Regions from separate parts of the Homo sapiens genome. Here region 2 is linked to region 1. The links come from fine-mapping of genetic effects on gene expression. A gene starts in region 1. The other region holds a variant in brackets. All regions are shown on one strand. Distances are between the middles of the regions.

Region 1 (12,101 bases):
ATCTGTTTAACAAAGCACATCTTGCACGGCCCTTAATCCATTTAACCCTGAGTGGACACAGCACATGTTTCAGAGAGCACAGGGTTGGGGGTAAGGTCACAGATCAACAGGATAAGAATTTTTCTTAGTACAGAACAAAATGAAAAGTCTCCCATGTCTACCTCTTTCTACACAGACATGGCAACCATCCGATTTCTCAATCTTTTCCCCACCTTTCCCCACTTTCCATTCCACAAAACCGCCATTGTCATCATGGCCCGTTCCCAATGAGCTGTTGGGTACACCTCCCAGACGGGGTGGTGGCCGGGCAGAGGGGCTCCTCACTTCCCAGTAGGGGCGGCCAGGCAGAGGCACCCCTCACCTCCCAGATGGGGCGGCTGGCCGGGCGGGGGGCTGACCCCCCCACCTCCCTCCCAGACGGGGCGGCTGGCTGGGCGGGGGGCTGACCCCCCCACCTCCCTCCCGGACGGGGCGGCTGGCCGGGCGGGGGGCTGACCCCCCCACCTCCCTCCTGGACGGGGCGGCTGGCCTGGCGGGGGCTGACCCCCACCTCCCTCCCGGTCGGGGTGGCTGCCAGGCGGAGACGCTCCTCACTTCCCAGACAGGGTGGCTGCCAGGCGGAGGGGCTCCTCACTTCTCAGACAGGGTGGCTGCCAGGCGGAGGGGCTCCTCACTTCTCAGACGGGGCGGTTGCCAGGCGGAGGGTCTCCTCACTTCTCAGACGGGGCGGCCGGGCAGAGACGCTCCTCACCTCCCAGACGGGGTTGCGGCCGGGTAGAGGCGCTCCTCACATCCCAGACGGGGCGGCAGGGCAGAGGCGCTCCCCACATCTCAGACGATGGGCGGCCGGGCAGAGACGCTCCTCACTTCCTAGATGGGATGGCGGCCGGGAAGAGGGGCTCCTCACTTCCTAGATGGGATGGCGGCTGGGCAGAGACGCTCCTCACTTTCCAGACTGGGCAGCCAGGCAGAGGGGCTCCTCACGTCCCAGACTATGGGCGGCCAGGCAGAGACGCTCCTCACTTCCCAGATGGGGTGGTGGCCGGGCAGAGGCTGCAATCTCAGCACTTTGGGAGGCCAAGGCAGGCGGCTGGGAGGTGGAGGTTGTAGCGAGCCGAGATCACGCCACTGCACTCCAGCCTGGGCACCATTGAGCACTGAGTGAACTAGACTCCGTCTGCAATCCCGGCACCTTGGGAGGCCGAGGCTGGCGGATCACTCGCGGTTAGGAGCTGGAGACCAGCCCGGCCAACACAGTGAAACCCCGTCTCCACCAAAAAAATACAAAAACCAGTCAGGCGTGGCGGCGCGCGCCTGCAATCGCAGGCACTGGGCAGGCTGAGGCAGGAGAATCAGGCAGGGAGGTTGCAGTGAGCCGAGATGGCAGCAGTACAGTCCAGCTTCCGCTCGGCATCAGAGGGAGACAGTGGAAAGAGAGGGAGAGGGAGACCGTGGGGAGAGGGAGACGGAGAGGGAGAGGGAGAGGGAGAGCTGGCCATTTTCATGATATTGATTTTTCATATCCATGACCATGGAATGTTCTTCCTTTGTTTGTGTCCTCTTTTATTTCATTGAGCAGTGGTTTGTTGTTCTTCTTGAAGAAGTCCTTCACATCCCTTGTAAGTTGGATTCCTAGGTATTTTATTCTCTTTGAAGTAATTGTAAATGGGAGTTTACTCATGATTGGGCTCTCTGTTTGCCTGCTATTGGCGTATAGGAATGCTTGAGATTTTTGCACATTGATTTTGTATCCTGAGACTTTCCTGAAGTTGCTTATCAGTTTAAGGACGTTTTGGGCTGACGATGGGGTTTTCTAAATATACAATCATGTCATCTGCAAACAGGGACAATTTGACTTCCTCTTTTCCTAATTGGATGCCCTTTATTTCTTCCTCTTGCCTGATTGCCCTGGCCAGAACTTCCAACACTATGTTGAATAGGAGAGGTGAGAGAGGGCATCCTGTCTTGTACCAGTTTTCAAAGGGAAGGCTTCCAGTTTTTGCCCATTCAGTATGATATTGGCTGTGGATTTGTCATAAATCGCTCTTATTATTTTGAGATATGTTTCATCAATACCTAGTTTGTTGGGAGTTTTTAGCATGAAGTGCTGTTGAATTTTGTCAAAGGCCTTTTCTGCATCTATTGAGATAATCATGTGGTTTTTGTCATTGGTTCTGTTTATGTGATGGATTATGTGTATTGATTTGTGTATGTTGAACCAGCCTTGCATCCCAGGGATGAAGCCAGCTTGATCATGGTGGATAAGCTTTTTGATGTGCTGCTGGATTTGGTTTGCCAGTATTTTATTGAGGATTTTTGCATCGATATTCATCAGGGATATTGGTCTAAAATTCTCTTTTTTGTTGTTGTGTCTCTGCCAGGCTTTGGTATCAGGATGATGCTGGCCTCATAAAATGAGTTAGGGAGGATTACTTCTTTTTCTATTCATTGGAATAATTTCAGAAGGGATGGTACCAGCTCCTCTTTGTACCTCTAGTAGAATTGGGCTGTGAATCCATCTGGTCCAGGACTTTTTTTGGTTGATAGGCTATTAATTATTGCCTCAATTTCAGAGCCTGTTATTGGTCTATTCAGAGATTCCACTTCTTTCTGGTTTAGTCTTGGGAGGGTGTATGTGTCCAGGAATTTATCCATTTCTTCTAGATTTTCTGGTTTATTTGTATAGAGGTATTTATAGTATTCTCTGATGGTAGTTTGTATTTCTGTGGGATCAGTGGTGAAATCCCCTTTATCATTTTTTATTGTGTCTATTTGATTCTTCTCTCTTTTCTTCTTTATTAGTCTTGCTAGTGGTCTATCCATTTTTTTTGACCTTTTCAAAAAACCAGCTCCTGGATTCATTGATTTTTTGAAGGGTTTTCTGTGTCTCTATCTCCTTCAGTTCTGCTCTTAGTTATTTCTTGCCTTCTGTTAGCTTTTGAATTTGTTTGTTCTCGCTTCTCTAGTTCTTTTCATTGTGATGTTAGGGTGTCGATTTCTTGTCTTTCCTGCTTTCTCTTGTGGGCATTTAGTGCTATAAATTTCCTTCTACACACTGCTGTAAATGTGTCCCAGAGATTCTGGTACATTGTGTCTTTGTTCTCATTGGTTTCAAAGAACATCTTTATTTCTGCCTTCATTTCGTTATGTACCCAGTAGTGATTCAGAAGCAGGTTGTTTAGTTTCCATGTCGTTGTGTGGTTTTGAGTGAGTTTCTTAGTCCTGAGTTCTAATTTGATTGCAGTGTGGTCTGAGAGACAGTTTGTTGTGATTTCTGTTCTTTTACATTTGGTGAGGAGTGCTTTACTTCCAACTATGTGGTCAATTTTGGAATAAGTGTGATGTGGTGCTGAGAAGAATGTATATTCTGTTGATTTGGGGTGGAGAGTTCTGTAGATGTCTATTAGGTCCGCTTGGTGCAGAGCTGAGTTCAAGTCCTGGATATCCTTTTTAACCTTCTGTCTCATTGATCTGTCTAATATTGACAGTGGAGTGTTAAAATCTCCCATTATTATTGGGGAGTCTAAGTCTCTTTGTAGGTTTCTAAGGACTTGCTTTATGAATCTGGGTGCTCCTGTATTGGGTACATATATATTTAGGATAGTTAGCTCTTCTTGTTGAATTGATCCCTTTACTGTTATGTAATGGCCTTCTTTGTCTCTTTTGATCTTTGGTGGTTTAAAATCTGTGTTATCAGAGAGTAGGATTGCAATCCCTGCTTTTTTTTTCTTTTTTTGCTTTCTATTTGCTTGGTGGATCTTCCTCCATCCCTTTATTTTGAGCCTATGTGTGTCTCTGCATGTGAGATGGGTTTCCTGAATACAGCACACTGATGGGTCTTGATTCTTTATCTAATTTGCCAGTCTGTGTCTTTTAATTGGGGCATTTAGCCCTTTTACATTTAAGGTTAATATTGTTATGTGTGAATTTGATCCTGTCATTATGATGTTAGCTGGTTATTTTGCTCGTTAGTTGATGCAGTTTCTTCCTAGCATCAATGGTCTTTACAATTTGGCATGTTTTTGCAGTGGCTGGTACTGGTTGTTTCTTTCCATGTTTAGTGCTTCCTTCAGGAGCTCTTGTAAGGCAGGCCTGGCGGTGACAAAATCTCTCAGCATTAGTTTGTCTGTAAAGAATTTTATTTCTCCTTCACTTATGAAGCTTAGTTTGGCTGGATATGAAATTCTGAGTTGAAAATTCTTTTCTCTAAGAATGTTGAACATTGGCCCCCACTCTCTTCTGGCTTGTAGAGTTTCTGCTGAGAGATCCACTGTTAGTTTGATGGGCTTCCCTTTGTAGGTAACCTGACCTTTCTCTCTGGCTGCCCTTAACATTTTTTCCTTCATTTCAACCTTCGTGAATATGACAATTATATGTCTTAGGGTTCCTCTTCTTGAAGAGTATCTTTGTGGTGTTCTCTGTATTTCCCAAATTTGAATGTTGGCCTGCCTTGCTAGATTGGGGAAGTTCTCCTGGATAATAACCTGAAGAGTATTTTCCAACTTGGTTTCATTCTGCCCGTCACTTTCAGGTACAGCAGTCAAACGTAGGTTTGGTTTTTTCACATAGTTCCATATTTCTTGGAGGCTTTGTTCACTTCTTTTTCTCTTTTTTCTCCAAACTTCTCTTCTCACTTTATTTCATTAATTTGATCTCCAATCACTGATATTCTTTCTTCCACTTGAGCAAATTGGCTATTGAAGCTTATGCATGCATCCTGTAGTTCTCATGCCATGGTTTTCGGCTCCATCAGGTCATTTAAGGACTTATCTACACTGTTTATTCTAGTTAGCCATTCATCTAATCTTTTTTTCAAGACTGTTAGCTTCCTTGTGATGGGTTCCAACATCCTCCTTTAGCTCAGAGAATTTTGTTACTCTGACCTTCTGAAGCCTACTTCTGTCAACTCATCAAAGTCATTCTTCATCCAGCTTTTTTCTGTTGCTGGCAAGGAGCTGTGATCCTTTGGAGGAGAAGAGGCACTCTGGTTTTTTGAATTTTCAGATTTTCTGCTCTGGTATCTCCCCATCTTTGTGGTTTTATCTACCTTTGGTGTTTGATGTTGGCGACCTACAGATGGGGTTTTGGTGTGGATGTCCTTTTTGTTGATTTTGAGCTATTTCTTTCTGTTTGTTAGTTTTCCTTCAAACAGTTTCCTCAGCTGCAGGTCTGTTGGAGTTTGCTGGAGGTCCACTCCAGTCCCTGTTTGCCTGGGTATCACCAGCAGAGGCTGCAGAACAGCAAATATTGCAGAACAGCAAATATTGTTGCCTGATCCTTCCTCTGGAAACTTCGTCCCAGAGGGGCACCCACCTGTATGAGATGTCAGTCGGCCCCTACTGGGAGGTGTCTCCCAGTTAGTCTACACAGGGTTCAGGGACCCATTTGAGAAGGCAGTCTGTCTGTTCTAAGAGCTCAAACACCATGCTGGGAGAACCACTGCTCTCTTCAGTGCTGTCAGACAGGGATGTTTAAGTCTGCAGAGGTTTCTGCTGCCTTTTGTTCAGTTATGCACTGCTCCCAGAGGTGGAGTCTATAGAGGCAGAAAGCCTTGCCTTGCTGCAGTGGGCTTCGCCCAGTTTGAGCTGCCCAGCTGCTTTGCTTTCCTACTCAAGCCTCAGCAATGGTGAGCAACCCTCCTCCTGCCAGGCTGCTGCCTTGCAGGTTGATCTCAGACTACTGCACTAGCAGTGAGCAAAGCTCTGTGGGAATGGGACCCACCAAACCAGGCACAGGATATAATCTCCTGGTGTGCCATTTGCTAAGACCATTGGAAAAGTGCAGTATTTGAGCAGGAGTGTCTTGTTTTTCCAGGTACAGTCTGTCACGGCTTCCCTTGTCTAGGAAAGGGAAATCCCCTGACCTCTTACACTTCCTGGGTAAGGCAATGCCCTGCCTTGCTTCGGCTCACCCTCTGTGGGCTGCACGCACTGTCCAACCAGTCCCAGTGAGATGAACCAGGTACCTCAGCTGGAAATGCAGAAATCACCCATTTTCTGCATCAGTCACACTGGGAGCTGCAGACCGGAGCTGTTCCTATTTGCCCATCCTCTCCCTGCTTTCTTTACCTCTGAGGTTGGATTCTCCCTGTGGGATCCTGCAATCCTTCTGCCCCAAAAAACTATTATAGCAGGAGGGAACCTGTTCCTGCTCACTCTTTGCCTTCTCCTTCTCATCCTAGACAGCCTGACCGTGCCCTAGTTTTCAGAGGAGTGATTGATTCTGGGGTGCGGAGCAGGATGAGGAAACTCAGGCTCAGAGAGGGATTTCCACCTAATGTGCCTGGAAACCATGGGTAGCTACCCAATAAGGCCTTTCTATGTTCAGAAGGTCATGGACCAGGAGTGTTGGTATCGGAGCTTTGTAGAGACAGTTTTGACCCCTGTACTTAGAGCAGAGGGGTGTGTTTGCCATGGAGAGTGTGTGTGGGCAGCTGTGTGTAAGCCTGTGTGAGTTCTGTGTATGTTCCTGTGTGAATATATGTGTGTGCTCCTTCATGGACACAGCATGCATGTAGTGGGCATAGCAAGGCAGAGAGAAATCAGGAGACTAGGGGCACATTGCCCAGTAGGAAGATAGTATCTTCCTACTGGGCAGGACTTGAGGTGTGCAAAGGTGTGCATGAGTACTGCAAAAGCAGTTCAAAGAGCAGAGAGGTGGGGCCAGAATAAATATGTTGCAGAAAGGCAGTCATCAGGGAGGAAAGTGAGGATTCCCTGCCAAAATGCCTGAGGGCTTCCCTGCCTACCACAGCCCTCTGTGTTCTTAAATCCTCCTGTCTGAACAGAGGCCAGACTCTGGTTTCCCCCACAGCCTGTCTGTGTCTGTCCTCTGCAAAGCCATGTGGCTCTACCTGGCGGTTTTCGTGGGCCTGTACTACCTTCTGCACTGGTACCGGGAGAGGCAGGTGCTGAGCCACCTGAGAGATAAGTATGTGTTCATCACGGGCTGTGACTCTGGCTTCGGGAAACTGCTGGCCAGACAGCTGGATGCACGAGGCTTGCGGGTGCTGGCTGCATGTCTGACGGAGAAAGGAGCCGAGCAGCTGAGGGGCCAGACTTCAGACAGGCTGGAGACGGTGACCCTGGATGTTACCAAGACAGAGAGCGTTGCTGCAGCCGCCCAGTGGGTGAAGGAGTGCGTGAGAGACAAAGGTAACCACCCAGGTTTGTCAAGTCTGTCTGTGTCTTCCCTCTGTGTGAAGGGACCACCTCCTGTCTGCTCCCTGGGAAGATTCCTACAGTGTCTTTCCAGGTTGAAGTAACAGTAGCTTTCTAATATTTCTCACTTAACAGGCTGCCTGAACCCCATCTCTTTTCAATCCTTAACCTCTCCCGACATTGGAGGTGTCTAGTCTTGGGGAGAGTTTGCCCTGATGAGATTTTCTCTCCAGAATTCCTCTCTATCCTCTCCCTCCTGTCTAAGCAGAAGTCATGTGTTGTTTGATGCTAAGAGCCTGGGTTAGAGATCTGGAGACTTGCTGGAGCATCGTTGAGAAGGGAGCACAGGGCTGCAAGTGTGCACGGAGGCTGTGCCTGTGCTGGAGCCAGGCTTATGTTCCCAGCACTTTACCTTGTTTTTGCTAGGGCCCATCAGCGTCCACTGAGAGCTACGATCATCTCCATCTTCAGAGGAGAGTATCAGCTTAAGGACTGCTTAAGGAAGGCAGAACTAGTAAGGGGTTACTTTTTCTTTCTTTCTTCTTTTCACTACACTAATTCATCTGTCTTATTATAGAGGAAGAAAGAAACATGGATTTATTTTATGTAACAATAAATCAGAATATGATCTTTGTGGAAAACACTGAAAAGAATAAAGATGAAAACAAGTTTCCCTGAAATTGTCATCCACACATAAGTCCTTTTTACAATTATACAAAATTAGGATTTTATATTTTGTTCTTAGTTTCAGTCACCTTAAATTCTCTGGAGAAGATGAACACTTTTCCACCATAATGACTGTTTTTATAAAATTATATTTAATTATTTAGAATACTGTATCCTTCCAATAGCCTTACCTATGTAATCCATACTGAGTGGTTGGATATGAAATTCCTTCCTGCTTTTTATTCATCATAAATGTCATCTTGGTGGACTTTTATTTGCCAACGTCTCTGTAAGTGTGAGTATTGATTGGATTCTTAAAAATGAGATGTCTGGGTGGAGGAATCTGCATTTGCATCAGGGCAGGGCCTGTTATTGAGCAGGGGACAGGTTCATATGCCTGGGCCAACCCTTCCAGATCAACAACTGCCACCCCCTGCCTGGACTCAAGGGACCCTGTGCTCCTGCCCCCTAGCTCTGTGGGTTGAAAACTCTATTGACTTGAAGTCCTGGGGATTGTGTATTTGCATCTTCCAGAGAGATTTTCCCAGAGCTGGGTGAACTTGGGACTAAAGGGAAGGATGAAGAGTGGGCTTCTGATGCAGTAGGAGGAGAGGGTGACATTTTCTGGGGCAGAGGGTGGAGTCTGTGTACTGAGTGGGGTGACGCAACCTTGCTTTCTTCCCAAAGCCTGTGCATTGGAATTCCCCTGTGCTTTCTATAAAAATGTTACTGATGCAGGATGTTTCAAGACCAGTGCCCTGAGTTCAAACACTTGGGAAACAGGATGTTTCCCAAGTTCCCCCAAGCCTAGGATTTCAGGTCTGTCTCTTTCTCTCTTTCCTGTCTCCCTCACTCTCCCTCTTTCTTGTCTCTTATTCCATCAACAGATAGTTGCTGGACAATCACTATATAAGGTGTTAGCACACCTGAAAATGCAGCTGTATGTCTGTAATGTCTGCAACATTCATGTTTAACTAACCAAACATTGGTCTTCATGTTTCCAGACTAATGCATGGACAATAGTTCTTTAACATGATTTCATGCAGTCCTTAAATAGGGGTAATAGCTTATTGTCTTTCAGGCAGTAGGCTGGTCCATGAAGAGTAAATGGAGAAAGACCTGGGTTTTGTGGCCCACCAGCTGCTGAATGCTCAGCCCCCACCCCTGTGATACTGTGGTGTTTGTTATACCCTCCTCCCCATCCCACACCTGTCAGTCTGCCCTCACTTTATTGGGATGTGATTTGCACCCTAACTCTGTCCACCTGCACAGGCACAACACAGTGATGCTCTCTCATCTTCCCACTGTCCCAGGACTCTGGGGCCTGGTGAATAATGCTGGCATCTCCTTGCCCACGGCTCCCAATGAGTTGCTCACCAAGCAGGACTTCGTGACCATACTGGACGTGAACTTGTTGGGGGTGATTGATGTGACTCTGAGCCTGCTGCCCTTAGTGAGGAGGGCCAGGGGCCGTGTGGTCAACGTCTCCAGTGTCATGGGCCGGGTGTCACTTTTTGGTGGAGGCTACTGCATCTCCAAGTATGGCGTGGAAGCCTTCTCTGACTCCCTCAGGTATGGGTCTGGGATGGGGCCCACCCTAGTCTTCCTGCTCCTGTCCTTGTGGGGAAGTCTTTTCCAGGGAGTTCCTTGAATCCCAGCCTGTAAGTTCCTTTCATGAGATCACTCTCTGTCTTCATGTGTGACACCCTCATCTTCCTCTTTCTGGATTGGGCTGGCCATTCACTGGGAAGCACCTTCCTGAGTGCTGGGCGACAGGAGGGGCCCCAGGTCAGAGAGTTTCTTGAACGATACCTCTTCCCTGGATGGATCTCTTGGTCAGAAACTGCCAGAGGCAGAATTGGACCTGGATCTTTGGCTTCAGATCCTACCAAGAGGAACACAGTACTGAGGTTACCAAGCCCAGGACAGGGGAACACTGTGTATCAATGACTAATCCCAGGGAAGGACCCTAAACACTTCTTCCCATTGCACCTTGGTATTGGAGCCACAAAGGCAGACCAGGCAGTCAGTGCTGGATGGAAGAATGCTTTGCACCCTAGAGAAGGAGCAGAGAAAGATCAGCTACAGCAGTGTGTGTTGGTCCCCTAGCCAGGGAGGCTCTCCCAGCAGCTGACACTGGGCATGTGGCTTGCTAACACCCCTCTCTTGCTGTAGTAGAAGGACCCCAACCCCTCCTCCCAGGAATCTGAAATACTTGTAAACCTGGGGCATGCCTTAGGGCCGCGGACACACACAAGCTCATGCAGACGCAAGAGCACTCACTGAGTCAGAAACAGGGAAAGATATTTCCACACCAGGAGATGGGTGCCTGGCTCTGGGGCTCTTCCTCTCTAGGGAGAGAAATGCTTCAAGCCCTGAGGCCATTCCTTCATGGCTCTCTGGGGCCCAAAGACAGCATGCAGGAGATGGTCTTTCCCAGCAGAATTCATATCCAGAGCCCCTTTGACGATGGGTAGAGCATCTGAGTCCACACAACAGACACTTTAGGCCCTTGTCCAAGTGGCCAAAAATCCATCCTTAACAACAAGGTTTTGTCTGTGACTTAAAACTTGATACCTGGGAGAGGGACAAGAGATATAGAATCAAGTGCCAATGCTTATAAGGTTGGTGACCAAGTCAACCTTGCTGGCCATGGTACCCACCTGAGTTGAGGAGAGTCCTGGAGATTCCATCTGAGCTGGGGATTGAAAACTCAAGCTGGGGATTGAGAACTCCACCTGGCAGCCTGGTAAGGAAGACTGGGAAAGGCTCCTAGATGAAGGAATGCCATCAGCCCAGGCCCAGAGTGAGCATTAGCCACCTGCATGTACTGCAGAATCCTCTTGTGGTGAAGGTCAAGGCCAAGCCTGGTGGGGGATGCTGGGCAGGTGGTCATAGGTGGGCTCCTTGAGGGCCTGTGGGCCCTGGACAGGAGTTGTGGCTTATGCTGTTGGCAGTGGAACCCCCTCCAGAAAAGGGATTTGCTCAGGGGAGCTCCTTGGTCCAGTCAGCTTCTAGACTCCCACTGACTGCAGGAAGCCCAGTGGTTGTAAGTGTGGGGAGCCAGACTGAAGACAGATGCTTCTTAGAGGACAGCTGCCATCACCCAGCTCAGAGGCCAGGGAGATTCCTGGGGCAGGAAAACGAGGGAGGGGACTGAGGACTGGAGAGGAGGCAAAATGTGGGAATTCTGGTGATCCACTGGATGTGAGGGACATAGGAGGAGACAGCACTAAGGTGCTGCCTTGCTTTGGAATTGGTAGGATTTAGGGCTAGTAAGCTCAGGTGTGTAAAATATGGAAACTCCATACAGAGGGAATGCCACCATGATAATTATGACCCCTTGATTGCTGGAAATTAAATATTCCAAGCTTTCTATTTTACCCATTGTCCTCATATGTTGTGATATCATAGTTTTACTTTTATTGTTTGTGTTTTACCTTCCAAGACCCCCGAAGTTTTTCCCCTCTGCTTCTCTGTCTTGCAGGAGGGAACTCTCCTACTTTGGGGTGAAGGTGGCTATGATTGAACCTGGCTATTTCAAGACTGCTGTGACCAGTAAGGAGAGATTCTTAAAGAGCTTCCTGGAGATTTGGGACCGGTCCAGTCCAGAGGTCAAGGAGGCCTATGGCGAGAAGTTTGTTGCAGACTGTGAGTAAGCTGTGGACAGTGGGGAGAGAAGCAAACCCTCGTGTGGAATCCTTGGTCTACCATTGGTGTCTGAAGGGCATTAGAGTTTGATCCCCAGGCTCTCCCTTCCCCACAGAGTGGAGACCTTTAGCCCCATTTCCATGATGGGTGCTGTGTGGTCAACTGGTCATGAAAAGCAAGTGTCCAGGCTTCTCAGAACTTGGGACCAGTGTCTATCTGAACCCATCGTTACTGAGGAACAAAGGGAAGCCAGAAAGGGAAGACATTGGTGGCTGATCACAAGCTGGCATTAGAGACAGCTTGTTTTTATGTGCTGAGACTTCTACTGTGGGTGGAGACCATCATTTATGCAGTCCAGATATTCCCAAAGAGAGACAGACATGACTTAGTGTGAGACACTTGCTACTTTCACATGGATGGGCTCCAGCTCAGGGAATTTGGATAAAAGAGATTTGAGGCATTGCTTGACTGGGGGTTGTGGGGTGGCATGAGTTCTTAGACCCTTTCCACTCTAAGTTGAATCCAAAGCAGGAGCGGTTAGAGGTGGAAATATACATGGATTGTTTCTGATTCTTAACAGATAAGAAATCAGCTGAACAAATGGAGCAGAAGTGCACACAGGAT
Region 2 (12,101 bases), 22 kb after region 1:
CATGGACCAGAAGTGTCAGTACAGCAGCTTTGTAGAGACAGTTCTGACCCTTGTACTTAGAGCAGAGGGGTGTGTTTGCTATGGAGAGTGTGTGGGGGCTGCTGTGTGTAAGCCTGTGTCAATACACGTTTGCACCCACATAAACATCTGTGTGGGCACAGCAATGCAGAGAGAAATTTGTGGACTAGGGAAGCATTGCTGAGTCATAGTAGTTTCCTACTGGGCAGGACTTGGGGTTTGCAACTGCATGCATGAGTACTTGCAAAGGCAGTTCAAAATAGTAGAGAGATGAAGCCAGGATAAAAAAAAATGTTGCAGAAAGACAGTGATCAGGGAGGAAAGTGAAGACTTTCTGCCAAAATGCCTGAGGGCTTCTCTGCCTACCTCAGCCCTCTGTGTTCTTAAATCCTCCTGTCTGAACAGAGGCCAGACTCTCATTTCACCCCAGCCTACCTGGGTCTGTCCTCTGCAAAGCCATGTGGCTCTACCTGGTGGTCCTCCAGGGCCTGTACTACCTTCTGTGCTCATACTGGGAGAGGCAGGTGGTGAGCCAGCTGAGAGACACATAGTGTTCATCATGAGCTGTGACTCACGCTTCAGGAAGCTACTGGCCAGACAACTGAATGCACAGGCTTGCGGGAGCTGCATGTAGGACAGAGAAGGGGACCAAGCAGCTGAGGGGCCAGACTTCAGACAGGCTGGAGACGGTGACCATGGACATCACCAAGACAGAGAGCATTGCTGCAGCTGCCCAGTGGGTGAAGGAGTGTGTGGGGGACAGAGGGACCACCTCAATCCCTCCTAGTGCCTGTTTGTTTCTCTTCTCTCTGTGTCACTAGGGGAGACCTAGTGTCTGCTAACTGGGAACATTTCCAGGACTTTTATTTTCGGGGGCTTGAGCTTTCTGCTTTCCAAAGCAGAAGTCCTAGAGTGGTTGTGGCTGGGCCCAGGGTTAGAGGAGTCCAGGCTGTGGTTAGAGCCCAGTCTCTGGATAACGTTGGGTCCTGACGGTTGGCATGAGACCATCGGGGATGGGGCTGGGCAGGATCCAGGCTTCTGATCTCAGCATTCTCTTACTGGTTCCTTCACACTTGTCCCTGTTGAGGGCTTTAAGATGATCTCCGCTTGATTCACGAGGACACTGGGGCTTGGAGAGCTGAAGGGACTTCACATCAAACACCGAGTGATGAATCCTGTTCCTTTTGGGGAAAGGGAGATCATTGATTGCTTTGTTCTGATTGTAAATGGAAAACATGAAGAAATTATAGAAGAGGATAAGATTGGATAGATAGGAGGATAAGATAGGATTTCTCATTGGAGAAATCATAGAAGAGGATGAGAGTGAAACAACATTCCCCCTAATCCCAGCCTCCAGGGTTAATTTCCCTCTACTTTACACATTCTGGGGTCAGCATTTTCATCATCAAGTTTCTTCCCCAACATAACAATCAAGGTCTCCATATTCCAGCATGTGGAGAGGCCATAATTTGTTAAAGGGATTCTATATTGTTGAATGCCGAAGTTTGTTACCCACTTTTCCTGGCATAAATAACATCTCAGTAGCGATTCTCTACCAAGGTTTGTTGACAGGCTTAGCAGTGCTATTCAAGAAAAGTACAACTATTGAATCAAAGAATCCTCATTCCTTCAAGTCCAGGAAAGGTTTCTGAGTAGGGGAAGGGCCACCATTGCAGGCCTTATTGTTTTTCCAATATTCCTAGGGTCAGTCTCCGTCTCCTGTACCCCCCAGCCCTCACCCACTCACACCCCTGCCCCTGCTGGCCTGGAGTCCGTAGTTCTGTAGCTCTGACTGCTCCAGATCTTTCATGCTATTAGTTTGCTCCCCTATGTCTTCTGTAGAGTCTTCCCCAAAGCTTGCTGGACCCTATGGGGATAGGGCAGAGGTGGCCTTATGAGATGGTGGGAGGAAAAGGTGGTACTTCCTGGGGCAGAGAGTGCAGTCTGGACACCTGTGTGGCATGAGACCTCTTTCCTTCCTCCCCTCCTGCTCTGGCCATTCAGTCCACAGTGAGCTTTGGGACTCCCAGGTACACAAGGTGACCTTTTCTTCCAGGACAGATATTGCCTTGACATTGATGCAGGTTGTAGCACAGCTTGTCCCCTGATGCCCAGTGCAGGCCTGCTCTCTAACTTCCCCCAGTCTTAGGATTTAAGTGTATCTCTCTTAACCAGGATGCAGAAAGCAATTATTTATGTGTTTTTCTTATTCTTTCCTTCCATTTTCCTTTCTCTTCTGTCCTTTCCCCTTGGTTTCTCTGTCTTACCCCATTCCTGTCTTCCTGTTTTCCTGTCTCTGTCTCTCTCCCTTGGAGAGATATTTGTTGGGTCCTGGAGGCATGGGGAGAGCATCTGAGTCCATACAATATACTCTTGTGGCCCTTGGAAGAGTACCCAATAAACTCAGCCTAGGACAACAACAGGGTTTTGGCCCTGACCTAAAAGCTCTGACACCTGAGAGAGGAGCAAGAGAGCCAGAACCATTGTTGCCAGTTCTCATAGGGGTTGTGACCCAGTCAGCCCTGGTGGCCATGGCAGCCTCCTAAGCTGGGGAGGGTCCTGGCAGTGGGATCTGAGCTGGAGATTGAGGATCCCCACCTGGCAGCCTTGAACAGAAATGGGGGAATGACTTTTGTCTTCAGCCCAGACCTAGGGGGAGCCTCAGCTGCCTGCCTGTGCTGTGGGGTCCTCATGAGGTGAAGCACAGGGCCAGGCCTGTGGAGGAGGCTGGGCAGGTGGGTTCATATGGGCTCGTGGAGGCCCTGGACAGGAGCTGTGCCTCATGCTGTTGGCAGTGGAACCCCCAAAGAAGGGATTTGCTCAGGGGAGCTCTTTGGTCTAATCGGCTTCTAGACACCCACTTACTGCAGGGAGCCCAGTGGCTGTGAGTGTGGGGAGCCAGACTGAAGGCAGAGGGACGCTCCTTAGAGGACAGCTGCCATCACCCAGCTCAGAGGCCAGGGAGATTCCTGGGGCAGGAGAAGAAGGGAGGGGACTGAGGACTGCAGAGGAGGTAGAATGTGGGAATTCTGGTGATCCATTGGATGTGAGGGGCATAGGAGGTGATAGCACTGAGATGCTGCCTTGCTCTTGAATTGGTAGGACTTAGGGCTAGTAAGCTTTGGTATGTAAAATATGGAAACCCCAGAGAGAGGCAAGGCCACCATCATAACTTTTATCTGCTATCTGCTGCCCTTCCCAACTCTCCAAGCTTTCTTGCATCTCCCACTGTCGTTGCATGCTGGGTTTGTATTGGGTTTCTTTGTTTTTTGTATTTTGCCTCCCAAAATTTCTTAAGTCCTTGCCCTTCTGCATGTCTGCCATGCAGGAGGGAGCTCTCCCACTTTGGAGTGAAGGTGTCTGTGATTGAACCTGGTCACTTCAGGACCAGTATGGCCGGCTCTGAGAGGCATTTACAGAACCTCAAGGAGCTGTCGGACTAGGCCAGCCCCGAGGTCAAGGAGACGTATGGGGAGAAGTTTCTGATATCCCGTGAGTGAGCTGTGGACAGTGGGGAGATAAAGAAATCCTTGTCTAGAAGTCTGGGTCCATCATTAGTGCCTCCAACAGTATGAGAATCTGTCCTCCAAACTCTGCCTCCCCAAAAAAGTGAGGACATTTATCCCCATTCCCAGGGTGCCATGTGGTCAACTGTTCACCTAAAGGAAGCATCCAAGCTTTCTATAATTGGGACCACTGCCTCATCTGAATCCCTCATTATTTTGAAGAGGAAACTAAAGTCAGAGACAGTGGCTACCAGTGGGCTCATGGGCAGCTGGGTTTAGAGATAGCTGATTTTCATATTCTTAGGCTGTTAGTAGAGACCTTCCATTTATGAGTCCAGATATCTCAAAAAGAGAGGCAGAGGGGGCTTAGAGTGAAACGGATGTTCCTTGGGTGAAGGTTGGGGCACTCTCTGGGGAATATGGATGGATTAGACTTGAGGCATATCATTTGGGGGGCCTGGAATTCTTAGACACTGTCCTCCTAATTCAGAGCTCTAAATGGGAGGGAAGGGATGTGCTAGTACTTTAAGGATCTTTCCTCATCCTTAACATGCATCAGAAAAGCATCTAGAAGGCTTTGGGCAAAATGCAGTACGAATCTATCCTTGTTGACCCACTGCATGGAGCGCTCACTACTCAGCTGGCTGAGACACCAATCTTCTCTACCTCCCCATGAGCGACATGCCTACCTTCCTATGGACGTCACGCTCAACTGGGGCTCTCCAAGGCTGGCTAAGCCCCTGTGAATCCAAGACTGGGGTGCATGGTTGGGTGGAGCTGGGTGATCTGGGTGAGGTGATGTGTCTTGGGGAGAGTAATGGTGTGGTGGGAGGGAGCACTCTTGCCATTTGGATGCCTATCCCAGCTTCTTCCTCATGCCCTCCACAGAATTCCACTGAGATATCACTCAGGACTGGCAACATAGGAGGAAAGAACCAAGGTGTTCTTCTAAAGATTGGGACCCAGTAACGCTCATAGGTGTCCTGTTGCCTTTGAGTCTCTTGGCCAATTCTGAGGAGTCTACACAATGGGAGCGTGTGAGGAGGGGAAGGATCCACAGCCCACACCTTCTCTGCCTCCTGCTTCTTCCCCAGGTGTGCATCAACCTGGCCAGTCTATTACACTCTCTCCATGATGGAAATGGCCTGGAGGAAGTGGATGGGGGCTCCTCTGAATATACCTGTGGATAAGGTGTGGGGCGACAGGGCAGCCATCAGCCTGACCCCTAGACCTCAGGTGCCAGCTCTGGGGGCATTGGCTGGCAGTGGTGTTCTCGATAGGGATTCTGACAGAGGACACAGGAACCAATGTTTGACCCTCTTAAAACCATTGGCTGGCAGTGGTGTTCTCAATAGGGATTCGGACAGAGGACACAGGAACCAATGTTTGACCCTCTTGAAACCATGACCCTCAAAAAACCATCTGGTTACTTTAGTTCTAGAGCAAAAGCTAAAAAGTGCAGCCATGTGCAGCAAGTTGCCTTCTAGTCTGAGGGGAGCATGGGCTGTGAACAAGAGGGAGGAGGAGGCAGGTGCCTTCATGGGGATCTGGGGATAAGAGGGATGAACTCAGGAGGAAATTGAAGAGAGAAGTTGGATTATCCCTGCCCTGTCTCAGCCCTTTCTGCCACCAAGGTGAGGGGCAATTGTTTCCTTTCCAGGAGTGAATCAAGTAGCCTGGGGTCACAGGAGTGCACAGAGGGACAAGGAAGCAATGACATGTCACAAAGGCACTGGCAGGCCTCTTTGTAGCACTTTGTAGCGACCTCTTTGTAGCACTCAGTGACCGGCCCTCACTTTAACATCATTGCACTTGGGAGGGGTGCTGTTTCATGGGGTGAGAAATAGAGTGGTGGGAGGGAGCTCTCAAGTTCAGGGTCATGTACCTCACTTCCCTCACCTCTGTTCTAGTTTTTTTCTGGGACGTTATTCAGGACTCTGGTGATATTAGGAGGAAAGAACCACATTTTGCTGCTTAGGAAGGGAGACCCAATCACAGATAATGGCATCCCACTTCCTTGGGCTCTGAGCTTCATGGCCCACCTGTCAACCTGAAGAATCCACACTTGTGGAAGGTCTTGAGCAACTGGGGGTGGGTGAGCCCACACCTGCTCTTCCTCCTGTCTACCTCATCAGGGTGTGTCTTGGACCTCAGCAGTCTATGCTCTCCCACTGGAGGGAAATGGCCTGGCAGAGGAGAGGGCTCCTCTCCTCTGAGATACCTGTGTGCATGGGGTGGGGATGGGGAGTGCAGCTACCAACCTGACCTATCAGACCTTAGGGGCCAGCTTGGCAAGGAATGCTGTCATCTGAGAGAGGGAGGCATTTCTAGCCCTGGGAAGAAGAGCCTTCTATGTGGTCCTACCTCCCTCACACCCCCCACCCTCATGGACTGTGTGTTTAGTTTGAGGCCAGGGGAACACTGCCAGCATAGAGGCCCAGGAGGTGCTGAGTCAGGCCCAGGCCTGTGCTGGGGCAGTTCTGAGTTATCCTTATGCTAAGTCAGACCCAACTCCTGGACCTCACCTGTGTCCTCAAGGACTGGGATACCCAATGCCCCGGACCTGCTCAGTCTTGAGTGACATGGTCTGACCTGTTTCAGCCAAGACTTCTCTGTTCATTCACCCAGGAGGCAGACAGAGACTGGGAGATTGTTCCCAGATCCCGCATAGGAGGTGCTCTGCCTCAGGTTGGTTATGAAGTAGGTGTGGTTTGCTTTCTACCATTTCCCACCTCCATCCCCTATAAGCTTTAGGTCTGCTCTTTGGGGGTGGGTTCATAATCTGGCCCCCTCCCCTACTTTGTTAAGGAACGGCCAAACCCTGCGGGGCTTTCCCAGGGTGACACCTGCTTTATGTGATTCCACGCTGGTCAGACTTGGCAAATGGTGGATCACAGAGATACATCCTTTGTCCCTTCACACTAGAGAACTTTGTGGTCCCATTTCTGTGTCAGACTCGCTAAGCCATGAAGGTGTGAGCTAGGACCAGGCTCATCCCAAGGAATGGTGACCCTAGATGTTGATCCAAAGAACCACAGAG[G/T]CTCCAGCATCATTCCCTGCATCTTATGCAATTCTGGGTGTGGCCCCTCACTACTCACACCTCTGGTTTCCTTATTTCCTTTCCTTTACCACCTTACCTCTTAGCTTTCTGTAAATTATTTGCTAAATTGCCTAGAATCTCTGTTTCTCCTCCAAGTCCCGACCCTGAGAATTTTCTATGTCTCTGGCCCCAGTTCTCTGCTCCTCCTATATCTCATCCCCTCTTACAGTCAAGGCCTCTGCCCAGACAATTCCCTCAGCTGCCCAGTGAACTCATGATCCCTCCTCATCATCTTGCCCAGGGCTGCTTACTGGTGACCTGAGTATGACCCCCACAGGGTGTCAGGCCTGAGTCCCCCAGGTCTTTCTGCTTTCTGGTGGCTAAGCTTCACATGCCAGCCTCCCCTATAGGAGGGCCCTGCTGCCTCTAGCCTCAGGACAATGGAGGTACATCCACCCTAGGAGAAATCCATTGCTTTTCATCCTCTCTCATGATGGAGACTTACCTAAGAATTCCAGAGAGCTGATGACCTGCGACTTGTTTCTCTTGGGGTTTGGAAGGTACAGAACCAATGTTGTTTGTTTTACATTAATAAATTTGTCTTGAGTATTTTCCCTGAAAATAAACTTATTTACATACCTGCACTCACGACAAATGATTTTGATCCCTGGAGACCAAAATCCCCAGGCTGGGTTGGGGGCAGGGTGGGGACAGGATTTCTAGGGGAGCTGTCTGGGGTGAGTCCTCATCTTTCATTTGCCTGCCTTACACCGCCTGGGTGAGCCACCACTCATCACCAACATTACAAGTGGATTATTTCCAATTCTTGGCAGCTTTACCCATCAGGGCAGGGGGAGAGAGGGAGGCAGCTACCAGGGCTGTCAGAGGTGACAAGGCTTCAGGTTGGACTTGAATTTCTTGCATCTGGGCTAATTGCTGTGGTGATGCATCCACCTATAAAAATTACAGCGTGGCTCACCCAGGGACCTAGATTTGTTGCAAGCTGTGGGAGGAAGGAGAGTTCTTCTTCCAGGTGGTTTCCTGCAGACTGCCTGCTAGGGCTCAGAGGACCAGCTTCTTCCCTGCTGTCTCCTGAGCCCAGTCCCTCTTGGCCATCACATTCCCCTTGCCCTATGGCGGCCCTCACAGACCTCTCATTTATGTATCGCTGGTTCAAGAACTGCAATCTGGTTGGCAACCTCTCAGAGAAGTACGTCTTCATCACAGGCTGTGACTCTGGCTTCGGGAACCTGCTGGCCAAACAGCTGGTTGATCGGGGCATGCAGGTGCTGGCTGCTTGCTTCACTGAGGAGGGATCCCAGAAACTTCAGCGGGATACCTCCTATCGGCTGCAGACCACCCTACTGGATGTCACCAAGAGCGAAAGCATCAAGGCGGCGGCCCAGTGGGTGAGGGACAAAGTGGGCGAACAAGGTGGGGCGAATTACATTCTTTGGCTTTCTTGGTTTCTCCTTCTTCCTCTTCCTCTCTCCCGAAGCATCTGACAGTATCAGAGACCCTGATGTCCAGATTGGGTGGGAGGGGTGATGTAGGGAAAGGCCCCTGCCTCAATCTGATTGGAAGCCACTGCATGGTTTGGCCTGTTCACATGAAGGGGTGATTTCCCAAGGAAGTTTTCTGTCCTGGAAACTCAGAGAAACGGGAAAGAGGTCTCAATAGGAAGCGAGGGGGGAAGATGTGTTCTGTGTGTCCAAACCTCTAAAAATGGACGTGCCTGGCTGGGCGTGGTGGCTCACGCCTATGAGCCCAGCACTTTGGAAGGCCGAAGTGGGAGGATCATGAGGTCAAGAGATCGAGACCATCCCGGCCAACATGGTGAAACCCCATCTCTACTAAAAAGTATAAAAATTACCTGGGTGTGGTGGCACGTGCCTGTAGTCCCAGCTACTCAGGAGGCTGAGGCAGGAGAATCACTTGAACCCGGGAGGCGGAGGTTGCAGTGAGCCAAGATTGCGCCACTGCACTCCAGCCTCGTGACAGAGCAAGAATCCCTCTCAAAAAGAAAAAAAAGAAAAAAAAAGGATGTGCCTCTCTGATGTTTCAGCAGTCCTAACCATCAGCTCCTGGGGAAATACAAACACATTTCTTGTTGGGATCAGGATGGGGGAGGGGGAATGAGACAGGAGGCTGGATCCCATGAGTGGGTGCAGTTTGTCTCCTTGACTATGTCAGGCAGGGGAGAAAGAGATCTGGTCTCTTCTTGACATCATGGTGGGTGTTGATTTGACTTCAGGGCAAGTATGTATGTCACAGTGGCTGCTCCTATTGGGAAAGGAAGCTGTGGACTGGGGCTGGCCCAGGACTGTGTGGGGACCTGCCTCATGCACTTCCAGCACACAGGGTGTGGGCCCAGGAACAGGAGGAACAGGATGGCTGAGTTGCAGAAGCAGCAGACTAGAGGAAGTCCTCCCTCCTAAAGGAACTAGTCTGGAGCCCATGCGCAGGTCAGGGCAACAGAGCCCTGGAGCCAGGGGGATCTAGACAGTAACTCCCTGCTTGATTCTTCTCCTTAGCACTTATCACTAGTCAATGTACAATAGATTTTACTTATTTATTGTCTGTTTCCTCTGCTAGAATAAAGCTTCCTGGGGACAAGGATTTTTGTCCCTTTTATTTACTGTACATCCTTAGTACCTAGAATAATGTCTGGCACCTAGTAAGGTACTGAATAAATAGATTTGAGTGAGCTAATTAATTAATAATTCAGCAAGAGTGAGCCTCTGTCTTCAGCAGGCTGTCTCAGCCAGTTCCCTACATTCAGCCTTGAGCCACTTGCCTTAATACCTCACTTAGCATGTGAGTTTCCTGTTGCTATTGTAACAAATAACACAACTGTGGGGTCTGAAGACAATACAAACATATTATCTTGTAGTTGTGGAGGAGTAATGTCTAAAATAGGCCTCACTGATCTAAAATCAAAGTCAGCAGAGCTGTGTTCCTTCTAGAGGCTGTAGAGGAGAATCCGTCTCATCGACTTTTCCAGCTTCCAGAGGCAGCTGGCATCCCCTGGCTCCTGGCCTGCTACCTCCATCTTCAAGGCCCGCAAGGTTGGGCCCAGTCTTTTTCACACTTTTCTCAAGCTCTCTGATTCTCCGGTTTCTGCCTCTTTCCACTTAGGACTTGTGATTATATTGGGCTCACCAGGTTAATCCAGGATAATTTCCCGTGTTAGCTTCCTCCCTAACTTTAAGGACAATTAATTAGCAACCTCCATTCCACCTGCAACCTTAATTCCCCTTTCCCATGTAATCCAGCAGATTCACAGGTTCCAGAGATAATGAGGATGGGGACATCTTTGGGGGACCATTATTTTGCCTAAGCCACTTGGCAATATCCTGGTCTAAGAAACACTGGGAACTGGGGTGGGTAGGGGGATGGGAGAGGAAGTTCTTTCATGCTTTCTCATTGCTCCTGAATGGAGAAAGGCAGGGAGACTGGGTAGGGGCATGGCTTGGGTGGGGACCCCAGCCCTAGAGGGAGGGGTGGACTAGGATTTATGTTTGTGTTGAGACCTGCCCTCAGGAGACAGTGGGATGCGCCTGCAGAGTATCTTGGGGCTGCTGAGGCTGGGGCTGTGGTGCGAATCACCAGGCAGTAGGACTTGGGGAATCCTTGCATGAAGGAGCTGGAAGGGGTCCTTGAGGAGTGTTTAGAGGGGTTTACAGTAGAACCCCAATATGTAAAACAAATGAAAGGAGAGCTTCTCCTGCATTTTCCTCCCCCTAGAAGGCTTGCAAAATACAGCCTGGAAACAACTGTTTTAGTCTAATCTGATGAAGAGCCTGAGGCCCAGAGAGGGAAGTGACTTGTTCAAGGCTGGAGGTAAAACCAGGACTGGACCTGAAGCTCTTCAACCCTGGGCCCCTGCAGAGTTGAATGACAACACTTAGCATTATTTCTTTCCATTTGTACCAACCTAATTGAAATATCTCAAGGATAGTCCTCATCACATTTTCCATAATTATTTTATTTAAATATTTTATATATTTATTTATAAATATTATTATTTCCTTCTAGGCTTGTGAGTTCCTTGAGGGATAAGATGCTGTGTTGTTCATTTTATGTCTCCTTTGCCCTGTATTTTACTTTATTTTATTTTATATCGTTTTATTTCATTTTATTTTTAGAGACAGAGTCTCACTCTGTCACCCAGGCTGGAGTGCAATGGCACCATTATAGCTCACTGTAACCTCGAACAAGGTAACCTGTAACCCGGGCTCAAGTGATTCTCCCACCTCAGCCTCCCAAGTAGCTAGAACTACAGGCACATACCACCACGCCTGACTAATTTTTTTTCTTTTTTTGTAGAGACAGGGGTCTTACTCTGTTGCTCAGGCTGGTCTCAAACTCCTGGCCTCAAGTGATCCTCCCACCTCAGCCTCTCAAAGGGTTGTGATTACAAGTGTGAGTCACTGCACCTGGCCTCCTTCACCCTGTAATTGTCACAGACTAGATAAATGCATGAATAAATGTGTGAAGATGAATGAATGAATGGATTGATTTTGGTAGTATGTGAAATGCAGTTGGTTATACTTAAGTGAATAGAGAGGGAGAAGTATGATGGGGAAGGGATCTAAACATTAATTCATTGGTATGAAAATGAAACTCTTATCCCAAAGCTGATAGCTGAAATGCTGTCACCTAACACCTCGATTGTAGCTAGTACAGAGCGCCAGCTAGCCGGCAGACTTTATGTGAATCAGGAAAAAGTGTCCCTTCAGGGAAAACGAGTTAGTAAAAGACACACCTTCCTTTTATGTTATAGCCTGACCGAGTTATGTCTTGTGCACCTGCTCAACCATCCTTGAGGGCACTGAGCCGGTGGGGAGCAGAACTTGGTTCTTTCCCAGGCCCACTGATGATTTCTGTGTGGTTCATCTCACCCCCAGGCCTCTGGGCCCTGGTGAACAATGCTGGTGTGGGCCTGCCCAGTGGTCCCAACGAATGGCTGACCAAGGATGACTTTGTGAAGGTGATTAATGTGAACCTGGTGGGACTGATCGAAGTGACCCTTCACATGCTGCCCATGGTCAAGAGAGCCCGGGGCAGGGTTGTCAACATGTCCAGCTCTGGTGGTCGTGTGGCTGTCATTGGTGGTGGCTACTGCGTCTCCAAGTTTGGCGTTGAGGCCTTCTCTGACAGCATAAGGTAACTGGGCCCTGGTACTGAACAATTCTGGGTGAAAATCCCAGAGATTAGAGAGGGTTGGGAGTGACAGCATGTGGGCAGGGGAATTCCGCAGACAGGAAGCTAACACAATAGCAGAAGGAAGGTTAGACCTCAAGGTGCTTTCTCCAAGGACCAAGAGCAGGGATGAGGAGAAGAGGTAGGGTGGAAATACAAGGCATCAGGTGGGCCTTCCCTTGAGCGGCACCAGGGTGAGTGAAACCCTGTTTGGGCCTGTGAGAGGAGGGAGAGTCCCCCAAACAGACAGACAGGCCTGGAGGCACAGGTCCCCTCTGGGAGGTCCTTAGAGGAGCGTGCAGGCCTTGTGTATATCCACACCATTCACCGTG

The links.
Region 2: its variant is fine-mapped to the expression of RDH16 in whole blood (TOPMed, PIP 0.98).

What each region holds. Positions count from the first base shown.
Region 1 is chr12:56,952,203-56,964,303 of GRCh38, reverse strand. It overlaps RDH16 (retinol dehydrogenase 16), which reads left to right and starts at 6,696. Exons shown (of 4, transcript NM_003708.5): 1 at 6,696-7,154; 2 at 9,140-9,398; 3 at 11,314-11,477; 4 at 12,058-12,101. The coding sequence starts at 6,842.
Region 2 is chr12:56,929,858-56,941,958 of GRCh38, reverse strand. SDR9C7 (short chain dehydrogenase/reductase family 9C member 7) reads left to right here and starts at 7,551. Exons shown (of 4, transcript NM_148897.3): 1 at 7,551-7,998; 2 at 11,475-11,733. The coding sequence starts at 7,698. It also overlaps the pseudogene LOC100420982. The variant G/T (reference allele first, on the strand shown) is at 6,565.